Homo sapiens: one gene and its partner. The protein of the gene in region 1 interacts with the protein of each later gene in a pairwise test. Each region holds a gene or a part of one and is shown on either strand. Other genes may lie near its edges.

Region 1 (3,827 bases):
TTTTAGCTGGAAGAACTTTTTTTTTTTTGAGATGGAGTCTCGCTCTGTCACCCAGGCTGGAGTGCAGTGGTGCGATCTCCGCTCACTGCAACCTCTGCCTCCCGGGTTCAAGCTATTCCACTGCCTCAGCCTCTCGAGTAGCTGGGATTACAGGTGTGTGCCACCACACCCGGCTAATTTTTTGTATTTTTAGTAGAGACGCGGTTTCACTGTGTTAGCCAGGATGGTCTGGATCTTCTGACCTCGTGACCCGCCCGCCTCGGCCTCCCAAAGTGCTGGGATTACAAGCATGAGCCACCACGCCTGGCCTAGCTGGAAGAACTTTTAAAATACAAAGCAAATTTTCTCAGTGAGCAATCATGTCTTTAAAAAATAATACTCAGGGCACAGTGTTAGGCATATGACAGTTACTTTAAAAAATGCCTGCAGACCCGGGCGCGGTGGCTCATGCCTGTAATCTGAGGCAGGCAGATCATGAGGTCAGGAGCTCGAGACCATCCTGGCCAACATGGTGAAACCCTGTCTCTACTAAAAATACAAAAATTAGCTGGGCATGGTGGCACATGCTCAGGAGGCTGAGGCAGGAGAATCACTTGAATTCGAGAGGCGGAGGTTGCAGTGAGCTGAGATTGCACCACTGCACTCCAGCCTGGCGACACAGCACGACTGTCTCAAAAAAAAAAAAAAAAAAAAAAAAAAAAGCCTGCAGAATAAATGAAAACAACAATAACAAAAACTGGGGGTCAGTCCCACACCACTATTCACTGCATCTCTGGAATTCAGCTTTTGGGATTTTTTTTCTATAAAATGAAGTTGATATTTTCCCACTTCCTAAACAGAATGAATGTTTTAAGGAACAAGGAAAGAGCATTTGCTTTGAATTTCTAATATTAAAAGGAACTATAAGAATAGAAATACAGTTAACCACTATTTTCTTAACTCTCAACGAACAGATATATTTCTGCTTTAAATGAGTGTTGTCTATCACGGCCAATCAGCTGCTAGCAAACTCTTACCATTTATCCAAACTCTGCCCTGAGGCACTTGCTGTCTTATCCAACCAACCATGTACAACTCTACCTCCACCCTTTAGCTATATACAAGGATTTCCTGTGTCAAAGAATAATGAGTGGGCCTGGCACGGTGGCTCACACCTGTAATCCCAGCACTATGGGAGGCCGAGGCTGGTGCATGACCTGAGGTCAGGAGTTCCAGACCAGCCTGACCAAGATGGTGAAACCCTGTCTCTGCTAAAAACACAAAATTAGCTGGGTATGGTGGTGCATGCCTGTAATCCCAAGCTACTTGGGAGGCTAAGGCAGGAGAATCGCTTGAACCCAGGCAGCAGAGATTGCAGTGAGCCGAGATCACGCCATTGCACTCCAGCCTGGGCAACAAGGGTGAAACTCCATCTTAAAAAAAAATTAAATTAAAAAAATAATAATAATGAGTAGGCAAACAGGGAAGAATATAGAGGAGAAAAATTATCTTAATAAGAACAATAGAATTTGAATTGAAGAAGGCTAGGAAATATATCTTAACTAGCCTAAAATACAAAAAATCAATGTTAATACTTGTGTTCTTCCAATGAGATGATATTTTTGAGGGCAGTACAAATTTCAATAGTTGCTTAAGTGAATTGGTAGAAAAAAGTTTAAGATTAGACAAAGTTCTGACCCCAAAGAACATACATTTGTTTTAATTACTCCCAATACAATTGATCTTATCAAGTTAGATGTGCTCTCAACACACATCAGTCTTAACCATAGGAGCCTTTACTCACTTGTTTAAGGCAGAAACTCAACTGCCTTACACAATATCCAGTAGCTTTCTTCATTCAATCCTCAAGAAAAACTTACCACTTTGTAATTTACCTAAACTGTTTACCTAGAGAAAACCTTTGTGTCCTTAGAATTAGCTGGATTACTCTTTGAGCTCCCTCCTGATTGGACGCTGATGCTGTTGAATGTGTCAGGAAACGTCCTCAGAAGTGGAGGGAGCTCAAGAGTTTTGTAAGTGGTTAAATTCTAAGGCTCACAAACCAAATTTTTTAGATGTATTCAAATGCCCGTGAAGCTTAGAATTTAACAAGAGGGCAAAAAAAGATGAGTCTGTTTTATTATCCTTGACTATGCGGGGTTTGAAATTTAAACATTTCAGAAACAATTTAGATCTATCCTTTGTGGTGAAGCTTAACCAGCTATTTCCCAGGTATATAGAGCCGGGGAATCTGTTATTTCTTTCATCAACTTTAATTTTCCTGGGGTTTTAGCTTTGTAAGTGTCACCATTATAAAAGAGAGTTAAGTTGATTTATAGAGGAAAAGCTAACATCATGGATCTTAAATGTAGTTATAGAACACTGAATGTATCCACTTTGCTGGTTTTATGGATCAGGAAAAAAGTGAAAACTGTGCCACTGAAAAATTACTTTTTCAGTGATTTTTAGAAAATTAAAATCAACCCAGGAAGCCCCAAAAATCCTGACGCTGAGGGTAGAAACATGATTTATATTTTATCATCATTCTCTTTCAACTCATGTAAACCTCTGGTCATAAAATCTCAAATTACTTTTTAAGGTGTCTAAGAAAACACTCTAGACCAAGTTAACAACCCTGGGGTTTTTAGTCAATGCAGTTCTAGCTCAGTCTCTGTCTCTGCATGCTTATTTATCTATGTGTGTATATCTTACTGTTTCTTAAATATTTTTTAATGTCTCTCTGACTCTTCTCCCTTTAACTGTTTTTTTTATTAAAAATGAGATATACCACATCTGTAATCCCAGCACTTTGGGAGGCCAAGGCGGGCAGATGACGAGGTCAGGAGATCGAGACCATCCTGGCTAACACGGTGAAACCCCGTCTCTACTAAAAAAATACAAAAAAATTAGCTGGGCGTGGTGGCGGGCGCCTGTAGTCCCAGCTGCTCAGGAGGCTGAGGCAGGAGAATGGCGTGAACCCGGGAGGCGGAGCTTGCAGTCAGCCGAGATCGCGCCACTGCGCCCCAGCCTGGGCGACACAGAGAGACTCTGTCTCAAAAAAAAAAAGAGGTATACTCAATGTTAAAAAGTAAAGAGAAGCCATGTAGGTAAGATGTTGTGGAGCTAGTAGTTAAAAAATAAAACTACTCATGATTTGGTATATCTTAAAATAAATTTTTATACATTATAACATATGTATAACATACAGTTATGCATTAAAGTAACTATTAATTTCCTATATGGAAGAAAATATTTAAAAATAATCCTGGTAGGAGTGAATTCATGTGAAATGTAGGCAGAAGTGATAGTTTAGAATATGCTTTAAAACAGATTTCATTTACTTTATATTCAATTTGATTTTACTGATTCTATAACTGGAAAAACTTAGAATTCTATAAATAACTATTTAAGGTTTCCATATTTCTACATTGATTTCTGATTTCTAAATTGTTATTTCGTTTGTGAAAAGTTCACAGTAGTAATTGAATGTTACATTTTAATAGCCACATATTAATATGTCTTATGAGAAGATCTAATATATACAACCTTAAAACCATGGATAAGCTGTGAAGAAAAAAAGTCAATGAAACTTGAGGAGGAAAATAATTTATGAATTAAAAATGCCACGCAAATTTTCTTTTTCAGAATTGGTATAAAAATTCTGAAAGAGAAGCTGCTACTCAACTAGGATAGTATCCACATTTTCTTGTGTGAGCTCTGACTCTAAGGCACAAGGCAAGTCTAAGTGTTCTTGTGACAAGCGAGAACTTTTCAGGGAGACATCAGACCAGCTGTCACAGTATGGCTGAAATCTCTGGGCCAATGCATTACCAAACCTTTGGCATCGG
Region 2 (3,827 bases), on another chromosome or scaffold:
TATTGATTGATTGCTCTGTTGCCCAGGCTGGAGTGCAGTGACATGATCTCAGCTCACTGCAACCTCTGCCTCCTGGGTTCAAGCGATTCTGCTGCTTCAGCCTCCTGAGTAGCTGGGACTCAGGCGCCCACCACCAAGCCCAGCTAATTTTTGTATTTTTGGTAGAGACGGGGTTTCACCATAGTGGCTAGGCTGGTCTTGAGCTCCTGACCTTGTGATCCACCCGCCTTGACCTCCCAAAGTGCTGAGATTACAGGCGTGAGCCACCACACCTGGCCACTTTTTCATTTTATTAATGGCATCTTTTTAAGAGCAAAAGATCTTAATCCTGATGATGTCTAATTTATTGAAAAAAAATTTATGGGGCTAATGCTTTATGTGTCTAAGAAATATTTACCTACCCCAAAGTTGTGAAGACTTTCTTTGATGTTTTGTCCTAAAGGACTGACAGTTTTAGCTTTTACATTTAAGTCTATGACCCATTTCAAGTAGACTTTTCTGTGCAGTGTGAGGTCAAGATTGAGGTTCATTTTTCTCCATGTGATTATTTAGTTGTTCAACAATATTAAAAGAGTATTCTGTTCCCATTGACTTACCTGGCATCTTTGACCACATACATGTGGGTCTATTTCTGGACTCTATTCTGTTCTGTTGATCTATTTTCTACCCTGACAGCATACCATACTGCACTGATTATTGTAGCTTTATAAGTCAAGAAATTATGTAGTCCTCAACTTTGCTCTCCTTAAAAAAAAAAAAAGAAACAAAAGATTTTACTATTCCAGGACTTTACATTTTCACATAAATTTTATAATTCACTAGTCAATTCCTACAAGAATGCCTGTTCAGATTTTGATTGGGATTGCATTGAATCTATAGATCATTTTAGGGAGAACTGACATCTTAATGATATTGAGTTTTCCAATCCATGAACATGGGATATCTCTCCATTTATTTAGATCTTCTTTAATATTTTCAGAAATATTTTTTAGTGTTTAGGTCTTGCACATACTTTGTTAAGTTTATCCTAAAATGTTTCATGTTATTTCATGTATTTATATTTAACTTCCAGTTTCCAAATGTTTATGGCCAGTATGTAAAAATACAATTGATTTTGATATAATGACCTTGTATCCTGTGACCTAGCCAAATGCACAATGCTTTAGTAGCTTTTTTTGTGTGAATTCTTTAGGATTTTCTACATACATGATCAGGTCATCTGTGAATAAAAACCTTATATTCTGAGTCACTCACATTTGTGCTTTTAGTTTTGTAATAAAAAACAAACACAGATTGAGGAATGAGTCATCTTTGAGGTGCTACATTTTGCTTGGTTCACATAAACTGCATTGCTTTATCAATACAAAGTCTTTTAAAACTTAAATTGGATATCTGAGAGTTAATATGTCAAAAGTTTCTTAGGCACAACACAGCATATTGAATTGGAATTTTTTGTTTTCCTCTCTATCTCTTCTAGCTGTCCTCTATCTCCATACATAAAACATTTTTGTGTCCTCAGAGCCTAACAGTACCTCACACTTAAAAGTTGTTTAGTTAATAGTTATAAAATGAAGGAATGATGTGATTAAGACCTGTTTAGGCCAGGCGTGGTGGCTCACGCCTGTAATCCCAGCACTTTGGGAGGCCAAGGCAAGAGGATCACTTGAGGTCAGGAGTTTGAGACCAGCCTGGCCAACATGGTGAAACCCTGTCTCTACTAAAAATACAAAATCTAGCGGGGCATGACATGCATGCCTGTAATCCCAGCTACTCTGGAGGCTGAGGCAAGAGAATCACTTGAACCCGGGAGGCGGAGATTACAGTGAGCTGAGATCATACCACTGCACTCCAGCCTGGGCGACAGAGCAAGATTCTGTCTCAATAATAATAATAATAATAAAGACCTGTTTAGAATGACTTCCACTATAACCTAAAGAAGTCTGTTTTCTTTGGGCCTCAACAATTTCATTCAAATTATATCATTGGTATGATCCCCTGACTAGTTTTTCTGTTATCCTTTAGATGAATATTTCTGAGTATCATTTTCTAATCCCTTTTAAAAACTTGTTTTAACTATAATATAGTTATAACCCATTTAACAATTATTATATTCATTAAAAAATTGCAGATTTTTTCCATTTGAAAGTAAATTTTGGCCCCATTTTCTTGATCTTTCATCTGAATACTTCAGTTGGAAGATATTGGGCAGGCATTTACATGTCCTTGGTACTAGTAGCTTATGACACAGTGTTGGTGTTGAACTGACAACACAAGATCTCTGCTTTCAACGCTGCCAGAGAGTTTAGAGGAGGCATGGGAACAGGGGGTTCTTCCAGCACTTGGCTTAATTTCATCTGGTTCATAGCCAGCTTTCTAAAATTAACTGCGGCTAAAGCTGAGAAGGCTTTTTAAAAAGACCTTTGGTAGAATTATCCACTAAAGGCCACCAGATGGATCTATTCTTCCTTAAAAGAAGACAATTTCTGCTGTGAGACAGCCATTCTACGTATAACCAATGTGTCTGGTTGTCCTGCGCTGGTAAAGTCCCAGCTCACCATCTAACATCACTATCTTAATACCCTAAACCCTCATTGCTTGCTGCAGAAAGTCAAATTTCTTATTTAGGGTTCTCTTGCCCAAATGTTTCCAAGAATCCCCGGATCCTTATATGTGTCCAAATAACAGATCTGATTGTCACGTGGGGCTGAGCTATCACTTCATATCCTCAAGCCAAAGAGGTTGGCCAAGATGGCTTTCTGCCCTCTTAATTGTTGCAGTCACCTTCATGGTAAAGATGGAAGTGGGTGTGAAGTAAGAAAGATAATGCCTTTTTTGGTGGTACTTTCTCTTAGGGATAGAGGTGTCCCTTCAAATCAAGATAATTTGAGGCTTAAAGTGTTATAGCAATAACTGTGAGTGGATTTTCTTAGTTAGTTTTCATTAGTCCTTAGTTTTCTCAGGTATTATCAGCCTGGGGGGAAGGGGCAGAAGATCTTAATTCATGACCAAAAAGCATAAAAAATACCACTAATGTTTACATAAATTTCCCCAGTTCTGTGTTTTTATAAGCATTATATTTAATGACTTCCTAGTACACTAGTGAAAGGTAGTATTTCAATTTATTTAACTATTATCCAACCATTGGTCATATAGATTGTTTCTTAGTTATTGCTATTATATACGATGCTTCAATGAGTATCATTTAGACATTAAGGACATTAAGCTTTGCCATATTTAAAATCATTTCCCTGGTGTAGACTGCTAAAACTAGAATGTGTAGGTCCAATGGTATGTGAATATTTTTCTGCTTTTTGAGACACATCCTCTAATTGATAGAAAGCAGATCCATTCAGAAAAGAAAATAACTTTCCAGTTATCAGAATATAGGTACCATTGTCCTCTAATATTTAAGAACATGAAAAATGGGACTAAAGATCAGAAGGTTATTTTAGTGAGCAAATAACAGACTAGAGGAAATATTATTGGCCTATGGAGAGTTTAAATCAGGCTATGGTATGCAGGCCAGACTGATCTTTTACTTCCAGACCCATCACTAGTATATTTTGGGGGCCCAGGTTATTACTGAAAGTAAACAGGACAGACTTCAAGGCTTCCATTTTTCTGGGAAGATGGGTTTCTTGATCTCCCTAGGATAGATGAGCCTTGGTCATGTGGTTTCTTCCAGCATCCACCAGCTGAGGAACAAAGTATCAGAGGAGCATGATGTTCTCAGGAAGAAAGAGATGGAGTCAGGGCCCAAAGCATCCCATGGCTATGGAGGTCGGTTTGGAGTAGAAAGAGACCGAATGGACAAGGTAAGTTGAAAG

Evidence for each region.
Region 2: the proteins of ZBTB25 (region 1) and HCLS1 interact in a two-hybrid assay, tested with the Homo sapiens proteins (one large-scale study listed by BioGRID and IntAct).

The regions. Positions count from the first base shown.
Region 1 is NC_000014.9:64,483,268-64,487,094, forward strand, and holds part of ZBTB25 (zinc finger and BTB domain-containing protein 25), read right to left. Parts: coding exon 3,656-3,827; 3' UTR 1-3,655. UniProt on the Homo sapiens protein: May be involved in transcriptional regulation.
Region 2 is NC_000003.12:121,647,307-121,651,133, reverse strand, and holds part of HCLS1 (hematopoietic lineage cell-specific protein), read left to right. Parts: intron 1-3,685; coding exon 3,686-3,815; intron 3,816-3,827. UniProt on the Homo sapiens protein: Substrate of the antigen receptor-coupled tyrosine kinase. Plays a role in antigen receptor signaling for both clonal expansion and deletion in lymphoid cells. May also be involved in the regulation of gene expression.